Homo sapiens: one gene and its partners. The protein of the gene in region 3 purifies or fractionates together with the protein of the main gene of each other region. This does not show direct contact. Each region holds a gene or a part of one and is shown on either strand. Other genes may lie near its edges.

Evidence for each region.
Region 1: the proteins of SLC16A5 (region 3) and TEX2 purify together in Homo sapiens (affinity purification with mass spectrometry; one large-scale study listed by BioGRID and IntAct). This does not show direct contact.
Region 2: the proteins of SLC16A5 (region 3) and RFC1 purify together in Homo sapiens (affinity purification with mass spectrometry; one large-scale study listed by BioGRID and IntAct). This does not show direct contact.
Region 4: the proteins of SLC16A5 (region 3) and EMB purify together in Homo sapiens (affinity purification with mass spectrometry; one large-scale study listed by BioGRID and IntAct). This does not show direct contact.
Region 5: the proteins of SLC16A5 (region 3) and FN3KRP purify together in Homo sapiens (affinity purification with mass spectrometry; one large-scale study listed by BioGRID and IntAct). This does not show direct contact.

Annotation. Positions count from the first base shown.
Region 1 is NC_000017.11:64,253,258-64,256,776, reverse strand, and holds part of TEX2 (testis-expressed protein 2), read left to right. Parts: intron 1-3,519. UniProt on the Homo sapiens protein: During endoplasmic reticulum (ER) stress or when cellular ceramide levels increase, may induce contacts between the ER and medial-Golgi complex to facilitate non-vesicular transport of ceramides from the ER to the Golgi complex where they are converted to complex sphingolipids, preventing toxic ceramide accumulation.
Region 2 is NC_000004.12:39,300,346-39,303,864, reverse strand, and holds part of RFC1 (replication factor C subunit 1), read left to right. Parts: intron 1-713; coding exon 714-805; intron 806-990; coding exon 991-1,128; intron 1,129-1,269; coding exon 1,270-1,365; intron 1,366-1,488; coding exon 1,489-1,587; intron 1,588-3,450; coding exon 3,451-3,519. UniProt on the Homo sapiens protein: Subunit of the replication factor C (RFC) complex which acts during elongation of primed DNA templates by DNA polymerases delta and epsilon, and is necessary for ATP-dependent loading of proliferating cell nuclear antigen (PCNA) onto primed DNA.
Region 3 is NC_000017.11:75,097,948-75,101,466, forward strand, and holds part of SLC16A5 (monocarboxylate transporter 6), read left to right. Parts: intron 1-90; coding exon 91-234; intron 235-2,009; coding exon of another isoform or gene 2,010-2,059; coding exon 2,060-2,869; intron 2,870-3,519. UniProt on the Homo sapiens protein: Proton-linked monocarboxylate transporter.
Region 4 is NC_000005.10:50,396,289-50,399,807, forward strand, and holds part of EMB (embigin precursor), read right to left. Parts: intron 3,003-3,519; coding exon 2,985-3,002; 3' UTR 1-2,984. UniProt on the Homo sapiens protein: Plays a role in the outgrowth of motoneurons and in the formation of neuromuscular junctions.
Region 5 is NC_000017.11:82,723,199-82,726,717, forward strand, and holds part of FN3KRP (ketosamine-3-kinase), read left to right. Parts: intron 1-3,281; coding exon 3,282-3,404; intron 3,405-3,519.

The DNA of each region.
Region 1 (3,519 bases), about 11 Mb from region 3:
AAGTATTTGAGCATCTACCAGGGCCAAGCATTGTGCTTGGCATTGGAAATCTGATGGGGAGCAAAACAGATGTGGTTCCTTCCTGCACAAAGCACATTATCTAGTCTAGACAACAAACAAGTCAATAGACATATGCATCATATATATTGGATTGTAATATGTGTAAAATCTCCTTCCTCTGAAGGAAAAGAACAGGGCACCAAGAAAGAAAGAAAAGGAAGAAACCAGCAACTGGGGGTCTTGGGCAGAGCATTTCAAGAGAGAGAGCAACGTGGATGTCTGGCTGCTGTGCAGAGGGGCAGAGAGGGGAATATGGGAAGGGCAGGCTCAGAAGGTGCCATTCTGCAGAGGACATGTCACAAGGCAGCATAGTGTAGCAGGGAGAGCAGAAGCTTGGGAACCAGACACTGCTCAAGGGGCCTCGGGAAGTTTCTTAACCTCTTTTGCCTCACTTTCCCACCTCCAAGATGCTATGAGGGTTGAATGAGCCTTGAGAGCCATGCCTGGCATGTACAGAAAGGACTGTGGGTAGGGTTTGCTGACTCTCAGGGCTGTGGGGAACTTGATTTCGAGTGGATGAGCTTCTCTTCCTAGTCAGCATTTCCCATGATTCCATGTGTAGCGTAACCATAGGGCAGAAGGTAAAACTAAGACAGCTGAGTAGGTGTATCCATGGAGGCATTCTAAGGTAGATTATGTTGGACTTTCTGTGGTGTGCTAAGCATTCAGCACCCGTACCTGGGAGACTTGGCCCTACCTGTAGGCATCTCTGCAGTGGGTGCAGTCCTGAGTGTGGAGCAAGGTGGACCGGAAGCAGCTGTTCCTCTGCTCTTGCCTGCAGTTGTTTGCTTTAGTGTTTGGATGCGGGCAGATCTTTCACCTTTTTTCCTGATAAGAGGAGACAGAGACTACTGGCCTTACAGCCAGGTGGTCAAACATGACAACTCGGAGTTGCTGTGTGCAAAACCTGCCTGAACCCCATCTCCAGCGAGATTTGATGATGTTTCCCCATTCAAAGGAACAACCACGCCTCAGGACCATACAAGGAGAGGACTTCATGAAACAGGTCACTGGCTTGGGATAGTCAATAAAGTGCTATGAACCCAGCCATATTTAAGTTATAGTTATCTTGTAAAGTATGTGTGAGGCCTCATCAAATTTGTATATAATTGACTAAGTTTTTCAAAATATCTTTTGCTCTGGAATTTTAAAAAACATACACAAAAGTGAAGAATAATATAATGGATATCAGGCATCTATTACTCAATTTTGATAATTATCAACTTTTGCTAATCTTGTTCCAAGATAGTTCCACAATGAAGCATTGTTGGTGGATTTTCTGTCACAGTATAAATGTGTCTTTGGACTATAAAATCATTTGGTAGATATTCTAGAGAAAAAAATGCCTGCACACTGCATAATTATAGGGCTGGTGTTAGGTAGTTGAAATTCAGAATCTGAAATGAACATTTAGTGGAAACCTCTTACAGACTTGTGTATGAGAAGTAGGCATATAAAATTAAGAGTGCTTTCAAGATGACCAGTTAGTCTATGTATTTACTAAGTAGCAACTGTACTGGGCAGTGTGCAAGGTACATTTTTTTTTTTTAAAGGCCAGGTGCTGTGGCTTATGTCTGCAATCCCAGCACTTTGGGAGACCGAAGTGGAGGATCACTTGAGGCCAAGAGTTTGAGACCAGCCTAGGCAACATAGTGAGACCCTGCCTCTACAAAAAAAAAAAAAAAAAAGCCAGATGCAGTGACACACACCTGTAGTCCTAGCTACTTGGCAGGCTGAGCTGGGAGGAGGATTGCTTAAGCCTGGGAATTCAAGGCTGCTGTGAGCCATGATGGCACCACTGCACCACAGCGTTGGTGACAGAATAAGACCCTGTATCTAAAAATCAAACAAACAAAAAAGGACAGTGTTTGTCCACAGTGGCTCATAAAATTATGAGCCCATGATGAAGTCACAGGTTATTTTCAAACATTCTTAGCAAATGAATTTTACACAAAGCCCAAACTGTGAAACTGATTAAGAAGCAGTATTTTAGTGGCATATGTTACTTTAAGTTCAATTTATAGTATTCACTTGTAGCATGAAACAGGACACAAGTTAATATGTCGAAAGTTTCTATATGTTGAATTTCATTTTTATTTTTTAAAGGGGAAATTCACATCAAACATGCAAACAACCCTGTAGCAGTGCCTCTGTGCATCATGGTACAACAGACCATTAAACATTTGAAAGGTGGTTAGTGCAACTGAGAATTGGAAGCTTTAATTTTAATTAAGCTGAAACCGAAGCTTTAATTTTAATTTAAATAGTTCCATGTGCCCATATTGGACAGTATAGCTCCAGGGTTTATTAAACCACCATTCCTGGTGATAGGATAGAGCCCAGCACAAACTAATCTGGGCAACAAATCAAAGGGCACAAGTCGCATGTAGGTTCCAAACTCAGTACATTTTAGAGAAAAGGAGTTTGATTATGTAGTAGAAGGAAGAACTGCCTGGTGGGACTCATGATCTTCCTTTAAGAGCAAGGCTCAAAGACCTGGGGAGTTTTGATTTGATGCTATGATGTCTCCTGGGGCTCAGAATATTATGAAATGAGGAGTGAATCTCTGAGTGAAAAGAACTCAAGCTGCTTGTTGCATTGCGGAATGTCTCTAAGAGGTAGAGAGGCGTCTGTTAAGTGGCTTGTATGAAGGTTTCAGAAGGTAAGATGAGCCCCAGCTTTGGGAGTTGTGTTTGCTGCCAGGAGGGTTTAGAGGCTGCCTCTAGGCAACACCCAGGGGCTCAAAGAAGACAGACGCAGAGAGCATGAGCTGCTGGTCACCTCTCTATCCCCAGAGCATCGTAGATGCTTGATAAATGTGTTAAAAATGGATGACAGTTTCAGGAATAGATTTAGGAGTAAATAAGAGATGGGCTTGAAATTTTTCTAGAAATTCTGAAAAATAGGTGCCGAGGGAAGTGCAGTGCCAGTGAGCTGCAGAGTTTGTTCAGCCTGTGCTTTCTGCCAGAGGTAATTGACATTTCTCCTCACTACGAATGCAAGCTCGACCTCCCTCCTTTCGCCCTTATCTAGTCCTGCACCAAATACTGCTGATTTTTATCTTATAAACGACTCTTGGATGGTTCTTTTCTCTGAAGCTTCTCTGCCACTGTTCTAGTTTGGTGCAAACAACCATCTTTTTGCTTGGAATACTCCAGCAGCCCCTCACTGACCTGCCCTCATCTACCTCTACTCCTTTCTAATCTCTTCACCTCTCAGCAGTCTGAGTGGTCTTTAAAAAATTCCTATCATGGCCGGGCATGGTGGCTCACACCTGTAATCTCAACACTTGGGGAGGCTGAGGTGGGAGGACTGCCTGAGCCCAGGAGTTCGACACCAGCCTGGGCAACATAGTGAGACCCTGTCTACAAAAAAAAAAAAAAGAAAGAAAGAAAGAAGGAAAAATTAAAATTAGCTGGGTTTGGTGGCCTGTGCCTGTGGTCCCAATTACTCGGGAGA
Region 2 (3,519 bases), on a different chromosome or scaffold from region 3:
AAAGTGTGTGATACAAGTGTAGAATGGAGTATTAAATTGCCTTAAAAAATGAAGTGTTCTGTATCTGTAAGATAAAGAATGAATCACCAAAATACATAAAATGACAAAACTGGCTGGGCATGTTGGCTCACGCCTGTAATCCCAGCACTTTGGGAGGCTGAGGCGGACAGATCACCTGAGGTCAGGAGTTTGAGACCAGCCTGGTCAACATGGTGAAACACCGTCTCTACTAAAAATACAAAAATTAGCTGGGTGTGGTGGCGTGCGCCTGTAATCTCAGCTACTTGGGAGGCTGAGGCAAAAGAATTGCTTGAACCCGGGAGGCGGAGGTTGCAGTGAGCCAATATCGTGCCATTGCACTCCAGCTTGGGCAACGAGTGAAACTCTGTCTCAAAAAAAAAAAAATTCAAAACTCAGTTGTATATTTTTATGCACATATGTGTACAATATCTCTTAAAGGACATATAAGAGACTGTTGTTTGCCTCTGGGAAGGGAATTGGGGTCTGCAGGGGAAGGGGTGGCAGGGAGAGTTTCTCTTCTCTGCATATTCTTTTTTTTTTTTTTTCTTTAACAACACTCTGTAGTCCAGTGCTGCATATTCTTGTAGCTTTTGAAGTTTAATATCTGTTACATAATTTTCTACAGAGCAGCAGTTTTTGAGCAATTGTTATTTTGTTTTTGTCTCATCCCATTGCTCCTCAACCTGGGTCAGATGGAGCAGCCTCTTCAGTAAGCACGAAACATGCTCTCATCATGGATGAAGTAGATGGCATGGCAGGCAATGAGGATAGGGGAGGAATTCAGGTAATTCAAGTGCTGTATTTTTGCAGTTTCACTGTTGATAATTTAGATTGTTAGAACATTGTCATTCTCTCATACTTAGGGCAGTTAAGGCATGTTGCTGAGGAGATTTTTAGAACCTAAAATAGCTTGTGTGGTATTTGTCATTTTTAAAATAATTATTTTTGTGTTGCAAACTTGCCTTTCAGGAATTAATTGGCCTGATAAAACATACTAAAATTCCCATTATTTGTATGTGCAATGATAGAAATCATCCCAAGATTCGCTCTCTGGTTCATTATTGTTTTGATCTTCGTTTTCAAAGACCTCGGGTTGAACAGATTAAGGTATGATGATTGAAATTTTTTTTCCATCACACTAGCCTATTTATTTAAGGGTCAATTTTTAAAAGTACCTGATAAATATTTTTAAAATACCTGATTATATGAGTTAAAAATCATTGAGGACTCCTCCCTTGTCAATTTCAGGGTGCTATGATGTCTATTGCATTTAAAGAAGGTTTAAAGATTCCCCCTCCAGCTATGAATGAAATAATTTTGGGAGCCAATCAAGATATCAGACAGGTAAATTAAATATATATCATGTAACAGTTGTTGATTATTTTTAACTAATGCTTTCAACCTTGTAGGGATGGGGAGCAACAGGATTTTCCTATCTTGACGTTGTCTTATTTGTGATTCTTTTAGGTTTTACATAATCTGAGTATGTGGTGTGCACGAAGTAAAGCATTAACCTATGACCAGGCCAAAGCTGATTCTCACAGAGCCAAAAAGGATATCAAAATGGTAAAATAAATGTCCATGTCTTAGTTACTTTCCTAAGCCAAAACACTTCTTGTTCTGTAGGTAGCTTGATAGAAGTAGTTATTATAGTTCCTTGGTATGCCTGTGGAATCCAGGGATATATAGTAGGAAGTATAGACAGCTGCTGAAAGTGTTTCTAATTCAAATGATTTTTTTCTCAAAGATTGTCAATGTCAATTATAAATTTTGAGAAAGGGATAAATTTTAAATTATACTTATGCTTCAACAATTATAAAATGGCTTTTCCAGAGTTCTTTATGTTTGGCTTTCGTGTTTGGAATGGTTTTGCACTGTTCAGAATAATCCATGTCAAATGGTTTAGTTTAATGACCTCTCTGAAACTAGAGGTATGTATCAGTTTCCTCTGTGTTGTATTTTACCTAGTTGCTAATCAGAATTTATAGTTAGAGCAATGATTAAGCAGGTTCTAAAAAAGTTAATACACTTTCTTATTTATTTAAATTTTCAAAATTTTTGGTAGAGACAGGGTCTCGCTATGTTTCCCCGACTGGTCTTGAATTCCTGGCCTCAAGTGATCCTCCTGCTGTGGCCCCCAAGGTGCCGGGATTATAGGTGTGAGCCACCACGTCTGGCCTATACGCTTTATTTTTTAGAGCAGTTGAGGCTCAGGAGTTTGAGACCAGCCTGGCCAACATGGTGATCCATGCCTGGCCTATGGATTAAAAATGGAGTGGAAGGTACAGAGAGTTCTCACATACTTCATGTCCCCCTCACACGCACAGCCTCTCCCACTGCCAACATCCCCCACCACAGTGGTATATCTGTTACAATCGATGAACCTACAGTGATACCTCATTATCACCCAGAGTCCGTAGTTGACATTAGCATTCCCTCTTGGTGTTGTACGTTGTGTGGTTTTGACAAATGACATGTATTCACCATTGTAGTATCATACAGAATAGTTTCACTGTCCTGAACATCCTCTGTGCTCTACCTGTTCATTCTTCCTTTCCGCTTTCCTCCCTACAACCCCTGGCAGCCACTGATCCTTTCACTGTGTCCATAGTTTTGCCTTTTCCAGAATGTGGTATAGTTGGAATCATGTAGTATGTGGACTTTTCCAGTTGGCTTTTTTCACGTAGTAATGGCATATAAGGTTCTTCCATAACTTTTTTGTTTTTGTTTTTGTTTTTTTTGGTTTTTTTTTTTTCGGAGTCTTGCTTTGTCACCCAGGCTGGAGTACAGTGGTGTGATCTTGGCACACTGTAGCCTCTGCCTCCCGGGTTCATGTGATTCTCTTGCCTCAGGCTTCTGAGTAGCTCGGGTTACAGGCACCTGCCACCACACCTGGCCAATTTTTTATTTTTAGTAGAGACGAGGTTTTACTATGTTGGCCAGGCTGGTCTCGAACTCCTGACCTCAAGTGATCCGCCCACCTCAGCCTCCCAAAGTGCTCGGATTACAGGGGTGAGCCACCATGCCCTGCCCCCCCATGTCTTTTCATGGCTTGATAGCTCACTTCTTTTTAATGTTGAATAATATTACATTGTGTGAATGTACCACAGTTAAATTGTTTATTTACCTACTAAAAGGACATCTTGGTTGCTTACAACTTTTGGTAATTATAAATAAAACTGCTTGTAAACATCCTGTGCAGATTTTTGTGTGAACATAGTTTCATTTGGGTGAATACCAAGAAGCGTGGTTGCTGGATCGCGTGGTAAGAGTATGTTTAATTTTGTAAGAAACTACCAAACGGTACAGTTTTGCATTCCCACCAGCAATGAATGGAATTCCTCTTGTTCCATATCCTCGTTAGCATTTGGTGATGTTACCGTTTTGAATTTTGGCCATTCTAATAGGTGTGTCCCTCTCTTTTTTCAGGGCCCATTTGATGTTGCCCGGAAAGTGTTTGCAGCTGGAGAGGAGACTGCTCACATGTCACTTGTGGAC
Region 3 (3,519 bases):
TTCCAGCTGGAACTGCCCTCTCCAGCCACTCTCCTCCTCTCCCGCCACCTCCTCATTCAGCTGCTACCTGCTGGCTGTCTTCTCCCACAGGGCCCCTGTGCAGCATCCTGGTGGGACGCTTCGGCTGCCGAGTGACCGTGATGCTGGGGGGCGTGCTGGCCAGCCTGGGCATGGTGGCCAGCTCCTTCTCTCACAACCTCAGCCAGCTCTACTTCACAGCAGGATTCATCACAGGTGACTATCACTTCATCTCCAGAATTTATAGGCACCTGCTAGAAAGTGCCAGGCACAAGTGGACAGGGCAGGCAGGCCTCTTAATCTTCTGGAACTGCTGGCTGGGTGCGGTGGCTCACACCTGTTATCCCAGCACTTTGGGAGGCTGAGGCGGGCAGATCACCTGAGGTCAGGGGTTCGAGACTAGCCCGGCCAACATGGTGAAACCCTGTCTATACTAAAAAAAATACAAAAATTAGCCAGGCTTGGTGGCGGGCCCCTGTAGTCCCAGCTACTCGAGGCTGAGGCAGGAGAATCGCCCGGGAAGTGGAGGTTGCAGTGAGCCAAGATCGCACCACTGTACTCCAGCCTGGGCAACAGAGCAAGACCCCATCTCAAAAACACAAAAAACAAAGTGCTGGGATTACAGGTGTGAGCCCATCATGCCCAGCCCTTTCACGGCATTTTGTTTTAAGGGGACTGGAGGAACAGACTATACCCAGAAGTGGTTATGAGGTCAAGACAGGCTTTTTTTGTTTGTTTGTTTGTTTGTTTTTAATGGGAGAAATAACGAAGGAGAAGGATCTAGGAAAGAAGAGAAAAAGGATGATGCAGGAGAGAGGGGACTTGCTAGAGGGGTGCCTCTGAGTGGAGAGGATGCAGGGCAGAAGGGAGGGACAGCCACTGGGGGAATGGGCAAGCCATTGTCACTGGCTAGCAGGCATGTGGGCAGCTGAGCATAAGGATAGGGAGGAGGTGTTGGGGGGCACAGAGGAAGACACCGGTAGTCACCTAGCAGGGCAGGCAAGGCATGATTGAGGGAGCTGTAGTGGCGTCACAGGCAGCCTGAGGGCCCGCCTGAGGCCACGGTCACACATGATTGAGAACTTTTTCTCCAGCATGCTCAGGTGTGCAGGTGCAGACACTGAGTGGGTGGGGAGCGGGGAAGGCCCCTCTGGAGAGGTGGCGTCTGAACTGAGAGGAGAGTGGAAAGTCTGGAGGAAGCAGATTCCAAGAAGGAACAGCAGCTACAAATAACCCGAGGTAGGGGCAGCTTCATGTCCAGAGGCAGAGAAAGAAGTTCCTGTGTCTTGATCCTAATGAGTGACAGGGAGCAGCCTGAGATGGCATCTGAGAGGCGGGCTGGAGCCGGACCACAGAGAGCCTTCCAGGGCATTGTGGAGACTGTGGATTTTTTGTCAAGTGTGATGGGAAGTCTTTGGAAGGTGTTAAGCCAAGAGAGACTTAATCCAATTTGGGGTTTGTTTGTTTTTGAGACAGAGTCTCACTCTGTTGCCCAGGCTGGAGTGCAGTGGCACAATCTCAGCTCACTGCAACCTCCACAACCTCAGCTCACTGCAACCTCCACTTCCCGGGTTCAAGTGATTCTCCTGACTCAGCCTCCTAGGTAGCTATTACAGACTACAGGCGCCTGCCACTAAGCCTGGCTAATTTTTTTGTATTTTTAGTAGAGATGGGGTTTCACCATGTTGGTCTCGAACTCCTGACCTCAAGTGATCCGCCAACCTTGGCCTCCCAAAGTGCTGGGATTACAGGCGTGAGCCACCGCGCTCGGCCCAATTTGGGTTTTTAAAAGATAACTCTCGTGCTACACCTAGGGGAACAGGGATGCCCTGGCAGCCTTGGGAGGGCAGATCTGGGGTGGGGTGCCTACAGGGAGGTGGCGAGGCCAGCTGATTCCATGGTCAGTCCCCAGGGACTTGGAGCTGGGTATGGACTAGAACCAGAGGAGGGCAGGTGTGTGAAATGACCACTGACCCCACCCCTGGGTGCAGGTGGAAGGCCCCAGTGCGCCTCCAGGCTGGTTTCCCCTCTTGCCCCGCAGGCCTGGGCATGTGCTTCAGCTTCCAGTCAAGCATCACGGTGCTGGGCTTCTACTTTGTCCGCCGGCGGGTGCTGGCCAACGCGCTGGCCTCGATGGGCGTCTCCCTGGGCATCACCCTCTGGCCGCTGCTCTCCCGCTACCTTCTGGAGAACCTGGGCTGGAGGGGTACCTTCCTTGTCTTCGGCGGGATCTTTCTCCACTGCTGCATCTGCGGGGCCATCATAAGGCCTGTGGCCACCAGTGTGGCCCCTGAGACCAAAGAATGTCCCCCGCCACCTCCCGAGACACCTGCACTTGGCTGCCTGGCTGCATGCGGCCGGACCATCCAGCGCCACCTGGCCTTCGACATCCTGCGGCACAACACAGGCTACTGCGTGTACATACTGGGTGTGATGTGGTCCGTCCTGGGCTTCCCACTGCCACAAGTCTTCCTGGTGCCATATGCCATGTGGCACAGCGTGGACGAGCAGCAGGCAGCCCTCCTCATCTCCATCATCGGCTTCAGCAACATCTTCCTGAGGCCCCTAGCCGGGCTGATGGCAGGACGGCCGGCCTTTGCTAGCCACCGCAAGTACCTGTTCAGCCTGGCACTCCTGCTCAATGGGCTCACTAACCTGGTGTGTGCGGCATCAGGTGACTTCTGGGTGCTCGTGGGCTACTGCCTGGCGTACAGCGTGTCCATGAGTGGCATCGGCGCCCTCATCTTCCAGGTTCTCATGGACATCGTCCCCATGGATCAGTTCCCCAGAGCCCTGGGACTCTTCACTGTCCTGGACGGCCTTGCTTTCCTCATCTCCCCACCACTGGCCGGTGAGGAGCTGGGAGGGAGGGCAGCCAGATAGTGTGGTAAAAGGGGAACAGTTTAGACAGATCTGGGCCCAGTCCAGCATCTCCAGAGGTTGTGCTACAGCTGGTTTCCAACCTGGCACTCAGAGTATGAACAGTTAAAAACATGGGTTTGGCCCGGCGCGGTGGCTCATGCCTGTAATCCCAGCACTTTGGGAGGCCGGGGCGGGCAGATCATGAGGTCAGGAGATCGAGACCATCCTGGCCAACATGGTGAAACCCCGTCTCTACTAAAAATACAAAAAAATTAGTTGGGCGTTGTGATGGGCGCCTGTAGTCCCAGCTACTCGGGAGGCTGAGGCAGGAGAATGGCATGAACACAGGAGGCAGAGCTTGCAGTGAGCTGAGATTGCGCCACTGCACTCCAGGCTGGGCAACAAAGCGAGACTCCGCCTCAAAAAGAAAAAAAAAAAAGCATGGGTTTGTGACCAGGTGCGGTGGCTCACGCCTGTAATCCCAGCACTTTGGGAGGCTGAGGCGGGTGGATCACGAGGTCAGGAGATCGAGACCAACATGGCTAACGTGGTGAAACCCCATCTCTACTAAAAATACAAAAAAATTAGCTGGGTGTGGTGGCGGGCACCTGTAAATCCCAGCTACTTGGGAGGCTGACA
Region 4 (3,519 bases), on a different chromosome or scaffold from region 3:
CAAAATTTAATTTTTATTTATACATTCATCCGTTCAATACACATTTCAAGAAAGCTGTATTGCACCCTTTCAGTGGTAGTTACAGGACAAAGAAACAAAATAATCCAAGAGAGAGACCAACAAATGTATATTTATAACACAGAGTAATAAACACAAATAAATGTGGAGTTATTTAAGCATGTAAGATGGTACATGCTCTACCAGGTATGGGGGCTTCTCTAAGACACAAGATCAGATTAAAGTCTTGAAAGATAATCTGGGGTTAGTCAAGCAGGTAGAAGTGTGAAGAGCACTTTCTGAGCGGAATCTCCATGTGCCAAGTCTAGTTCAAGAGACTGGATAGAGATTAGCAATTTGGAGAATGCAATATTAAGAAATGGCAAAGGTGAGCCTACAGAGATTCCAAAGTTGCATAGTGAGGTTTGTGTTTGAGAAAGTGGACTCAGGCAGCCACGCAAAAGAGGGATTAATAGAAAAGGAGACTGAGGTAGGAAAATCAAGGCATTAGTGTTGCAGCAGGTGTGGGCAGAGTTGGGGAGGCAATGGGATGGATTCATGAGCTATTAAAAAGGTCAAAGGAGCAGGGATTCATGACCCATAAGTATTAATTAATACAGAAGAAGAAAATATCAGAATGAGTTCTAAATTAGGGCCTGAGCAGCTAGATGTTGGGATAATAACAAAAAGACTGCAAAAGGAGAAGATTTACACTTTGGCAAAAAATGTATATGAAAGTATCTGGGAATTTTATGCCATCATTAAATCTACTTATTATGCTGAAAATCCTTGTTAGCTGGAAAGACTAAGAGAATTCCCCAAGGTGCCTAATATATAAACTTGGAGTAGTTTTCCTACTTCAACTTTTATGCGGCTTATTATTTGCAGTCAATTTATATTTGGTCAATATTAGTTAATTCATTTATCATCTCTGTAAGATTGGTTAATGGAAGCAGATTAAAATCCAACAGTGGTAATTTTCTGGAAGTCCTCCAGAGAGACTACAAAAAGCCAAAAGTCAACTTTAATTTTTGAGTACTTTTCCTATTTAAGGTTACTGAGATAAATTGTCTTTGCTAGAAAAAAATAAACAGTATTGCCAATTAAAAACTCCATTTACTATAGAAATATTCCTGATTATTTTACCTTTGGGAAGCAATGCTTGTTGCTTGAAAATTGTATGAGCCTCAATGGTTAGTGGTGGTAAAATGGAAGAATGCATACTGCAGATGGGTTACACATTTGTTTGTGTTCTATATTCCAAGTCACAAATACACTGCTTTGAATTGTATTTAGTCAAACAGCAGATTTGACTAATATTTCCCTGAATTCAAATAGCTTAGATTAATTAAGCTAACTGATTGGTTATCTACCATTATATAGATATTACCCAAGTAATGTTGTCAAAATAATAATTAATTAAACTAAAATAAATGTATGGCCCTGAGACCAGAATAAAATGAAAACCAAGAATAAAATGAAGTTTGCCATTACCGGGATGTATTCAAGTTCAGCAAACTTATATGTGTAGTTAAGATGCTTTACAACAAAATATTGCATTTTGTTATAGCAACAAAGTATTGAGCAGCTTCCAAGTCACTACCTTATGTGTATTATTCATACTAGTAATATTGGTAAACATTAGTGATACAATTTTCACTACCAAAATTTTATTATATTTTTCTTAGCCAATACATGGAGCAAATTTTTATAAAGTATTTCTTGTCAAATCATTGAATTCCTCCTCCCCAACCTTTAAATTCCCTAGTCGCCAAGAATCTTGGGTTCCACACCACCACTCTTTGCTTCTGTTCTTAAAGTTGTTGCCCTTTGAGCAGTGGGACACTTCATGGTCATTTATGTTATCTAGTATCTTGTGGTATGATTTTAGTATTCATTCAAGCATTGACAACTTTTCATGTTGATTCAGATTTTATAAGATTTGATTACAGTGAGTTTATAAAATATTTCAGTTATATATGCAATAGAAACGAAGTATCCTATTTTGGAAGATAAGTCTAAGGCATTCACAGCAATAAAAAAGAAGTGCTTTAGTATTTCTGGACTTCAGTCAAGGGAATTATTATTGTAAAGCACTAATAATGCAGGTTTAGATATTTAACCAGCCATAGATACCAGGAAGCCAGGTGTTAAATCAAAGAACCAGGAAACCATGAGCCACAAAAGCATCAGTGTAGCAGTGTTTTAAGTATTACGACTATATGGACCTGCACCCTAAAACATAAACAATGGTGTACCTTATGAAGTTAAAAACCCTATTTAAGACTAAGAAGCACTTTAGCCTGGTGGGGAAAGCAGTGGTTATGAGTGGAATAAAGACTGGAAAATTTGCTTTTGTAGTGCAGAGCTTTAGAGCAAGCACAGTTTTATTTATTTGCCTTAAACCAATATTTCCGGATAAAAGGTATATTTTTCTTGTGGAGATTGTAGAATAACTATCATTAGCAAAGGCAGAAAGTATTCATTTCAACTTAGTAAAGACATATTTTTTCACTATCACAGAAAGATGACCTTTACATAAAAATTGTTACATATACTTCCATAGATACTAATAGTAAGTATGATTTTTTTTTAAAAAATAACTTTCTAAGACAAATGGCAAAGGCTTTCTTTTTCATGAATTCTTTGGTTATAAACAGGTTTTGAGTGATTTTTGTTCTATGAAGTATTAAGTGATTCTGCTGATATCTGTTCTGTGTGTCCTTTGAAGACCAGAATATAATTAATTTTATTCTGGTCTAACATATTTATTCTGATTTACATTGCTTTTATGTAACATAATTACAGAATGAAAATATACCTTTAGATCTGACATATATCGTTGATGAAGCTCCTGCTGAGCATGTTGCATAAGCTTTTCATCCTTTTAAAACTAAAAACTCAGAGGCTCTTAACAGGAAGGATAAACAAAGCTGAAATACGAACTCTGTATATCTTCCAATGATTCTCGACATGATGTTTTGTATTCACTGGCCCAGAGACTCCTGAGTTAAATAAAGCATAATCAAATATAATTAGTATGTTCTGGTTATTTTATAGTAACTTACTATCACTTTAGCAAAGCAAAAAATACTGGGAAGTGAGGGATCCAATCTACTGCCAAAACAGAGCTCCTACTCTAATGTTGATGAACTAAAAATTTTGAATCTAATCAGCAAAGAAAGTTAGCTTATATGCATAAGTTTATACCCCCAAATATATGGGAATAAATGAAACTAAAATAACAGAAAATCCAGAAAATTTTAGAGGAAAACAAATAAAGCTACATGAAAAATTGTAAAAGAAACTAGTCCGTGGTGATAAAATAAAATATGTAGCCAGTGCAAAAGATTTACTTCTAGATTAGTTGCTATGTGCCCTCTGGTGGAAAATGATTTATTTTTGTATAACTATACTGTATATTTTCCCCTATAATAGTGTTAACAAGCATATTTGAGCACATCATAAATGACCAGATCTTTTATGGAACTAAAAAAAAGTAACTGATTGATAGATAGCCTA
Region 5 (3,519 bases), 7.6 Mb from region 3:
TTGTGTGATTTTATGGTGGCTTCCCTCCGCATTTCCACCTGGGGAGTTCTGCTTGACGCCCAGCACATGTGCAGTGGACAGGGCTCCTGTCCTGTCCTCGAGAGGAGGGTACAGATGAACCCAGAAAACTTGCCAGGGTTTCCTGGCGGGCGCGGGGGCAGTAGAAAGACTTTGAAATGTTGAAGTTTGTTCAGAAACCTGCTTAGGGGCGGGGAGTGGTGCCCTCTGGTCCTGCCTGCTGGCGGGGGGTGGGGGGTTTTCGCCAGCTCCGCCCCTTCGTCTCGTGGCTGTACTCACAGTGTGTGTGTGCATGTGTGTGTGTGCATATGTGTATTTGTGTGCACGCACGTCTGTGCGCATATGTGTATGTGTGTGCATGTGTGTGCATATGTGTGCATGTGTATGTGCACGCATGTGTGCATATGTGTATGTGTGCACACGTGTGTGCATGTGTGTACGCGTGTGCGCGCACATGTATGTGTGCAGGCGTGTGTGCGCATGACTGTGTGCCTGATGCATGATGTTGGCGTCGTGTGCTACTCCAGTCGTGTGTGTCTGTCTTGCTTCCCTCCTGGGTGGTAAGCACCTGTGACCTGGATGTCCTTTCTCGGGGTCCTTCTCAATGGGGCTCCATGTGACTTTTCCTGTCATCACTGTCTGGGGAGGGGCTGTCTGGACAGATGTCAGAAGTGAGCCATGGGGTTGGGGCAGGTCAGCCAGCTCTGGCCTCAGTACTCCAGTGTGATTGTAAATTAAGAGGAAATGTTAGCCAGTTGCTTTAGCAGCAAAAAAAAAATTTTTTTTTTTAAATAAAAAAGCCCTGGTGGTTCATGCCTGTAATTCCAGCACTTTGGGAGGCCGAGGTGGGAGGATTGCTTGAGCCCAGCAGTTCGAGACCAGCCTGGCCAACATGGTGAAACCCTCTCTCTAGTAAAAATACAAAAAATTAGCAGGGTGTGGTGGTGCGTGCCTGTAGTTCCAGCCACTTGGAAGGCTGAGGTGGGAGGATTGCTTAAGCCTGGGAATTGAAGGCTGCAGTGAGCTGTGATTGCACCACTGCACTCCAGCTTGGGTAATGGAGCAAGACCTTGTTTCACAAAGATGAAAAAGAAAGAAAATGTTCTGGACCGGGCACGGTGGCTCACGCCTGTAATCTCAGCACTTTGGGAGGCCGAGGCGGGCAGATCACGTGAGGTAGAGTTTGAGACCAGCCTGACCAACATGGTGAAATCCTGTCTCTACTAAAAATACAAAAATTAGCCGGGCATGGTGGTGCGCACCTGTAATCCCAGCTACTCTGGGGGCTGAGGCAGGAGAATCGCTTGAACCCGGGAGACAGAGATTGCAGTGAGCTGAAATCACGCCATTGCACTCCAGCCTGGGTGACAAGAGTGAAACTTCATCTCAAAAAAGAAAAAAAAAAAGTAAAAAGTAAACTAAAAGGTAGTACAGTCAGATATCTTCTGTTACATATGGAACCTGTAAAGGCCAAAAGTGTGCTGCATGTGTGCCAACCAGAGCACGAGGGAGCAGGCCCCATGGCACCCTGTGATGTGAGTGTGACTTGGGACAACGATCTTTATGGGCAGCAACGTGGCAATGCCTATCAAAAAAAAAATTTTTTTTTTGAGATGGAGTCTCGCTCTGTCACCCAGGCTGGAGTGCAGTGGTGCGATCTTGGCTCACTGCAAGTTCCGCCTCCCAGGTTCACGCCATTCTTCTGCCTCAGCCTCCTGAGTAGCTGGGACTACAGGTGCCTGTCACCATGCCCGGCTAATTTTTTTTTGTATTTTTAGTAGAGATGGGGTTCCACCGTGTTAGCCAGGACAGTCTCAATCTCCTGGCCTTGTGATCTGCTTGCCTCAACCTCCCAAGGTGCTGGGATTACAGGCATGAGCCACCGTGCCTGGCCAAAAATTTAAAATTTAGTTTTAATTTTAATTTTAAAAGATAGAGTCTCTCTCTGTTGCCCAGGCTGGAGAGCAGTGGCATGATCATAGCTCACTGCAGCCTCAAACTTTCTGGGCTCAAGCCATCCTCCTGCCCCAGCCTCCCATGTAGCTGGGACTACAGGCATACACCACCACACTTGGCTAATTTTTTAATTTTTTTTGTAGAGACAGGGGTCTCACTATGTTGCCCAGGCTGGTCTCAAACTCCTGGGCTCAAGTGATCCTCCCACCTCAGCCACGCAAAATGCTGGGATTACAGATATTGCTCACCACTCCCAGCCCCCTTTCAAATTTTTTAATTTATTTAATTTATTTTTTTGAAATGGAGTCTCGCTGTCACCCAGGCTAGAGTGCAGTGGTGCGATCTTGGCTCACTGCAACCTCCAGCTTCCGGGTTCAATCAGTTCTCCTGCCTCAGCCTCCTGTGTGACTGGGATTACAGGCGCCCACCACCACGTCCGGCTAATTTTTGTATTTTTAGTACAAGCATGAGCCACCACACCTGGCCCCCCTTTCAAAATTTTAAATGGACTTATGCTCTGACCCAGTAATTATCCTTTAGGATTTATTCTACAGGCATATTTACACGTATGCAAAATGGCACAGACACAAGGGTATTTGCTGTGCCACTCTTGGTACTATGACAAGGAAAATCCAGAGGAGCACTGGGTGAAGTCCTGGTGCATCATCTGATGAACTATTGTCAGCTGCTACAAAACAACGTAAAGAAAGTGGGAGCAGGGCCAGGTGCAGTGGCCCACGCCCGCCCGTAATCCCAGCACTTTGAGAGGCTGAAGCGGGCAGATCACCTGAGGTCAGGAGTTTGAGACCAGCCTGACCAACATGGCGAAACCCCGTCTCTACTAAAAATACAAAAAAATTAGCCGGGCGTGGTGGTGCATGCTTGTAATCCCAGCTACTTGGGAGGCTGAGGCAGGAGAATTGCTTGAACCCGGGAGGCAGAGGTTGCAGTGAGCCGAGATGGCGCCACTGCACTCCAGCCTGGGCAATGAGAGCGAAACTCTATCTCAGAAAAAAGAAAAAGAAAAAAAAATGTTCTAGAAGCCTTCATTCTTGGAAGGCTACAGAGTGGGTCCTGAAGCATCCCCATGCTTCCCACTGCTCTTGGGATAGGATCTGAGGTCTCAGCATGTCCATGAGACTCCGGTTCCTCCTGGGATGTGGTTCCCCCCTCAGGCTCCTGTGACTGCCACCCCTCCCACGTGCCGCTCCTGCAGCCCTCTCCACTTTGAGATGCTTGTGGGTAGCTGAGCTCTCCCTTGGTTCTGGCATTTTCCAGTGAACTGTGCTTTTGCTGTTACTGTGCAGGTGAATGACTGGCAGGAGGACTGGGTCGTGTTCTATGCCCGGCAGCGCATTCAGCCCCAGATGGACATGGTGGAGAAGGAGTCTGGGGACAGGGAGGCCCTCCAGCTTTGGTCTGCTCTGCAGGTGAGTGGGGCCCCACTGCATGCCCAGCACCTGCCACACACCCCACTTGCCTGAGGTAGGGGAGGCACCAAGGCAGGTGAGGCCACCTCTGAGTCTGATTCTGGGTGGGAAGCGG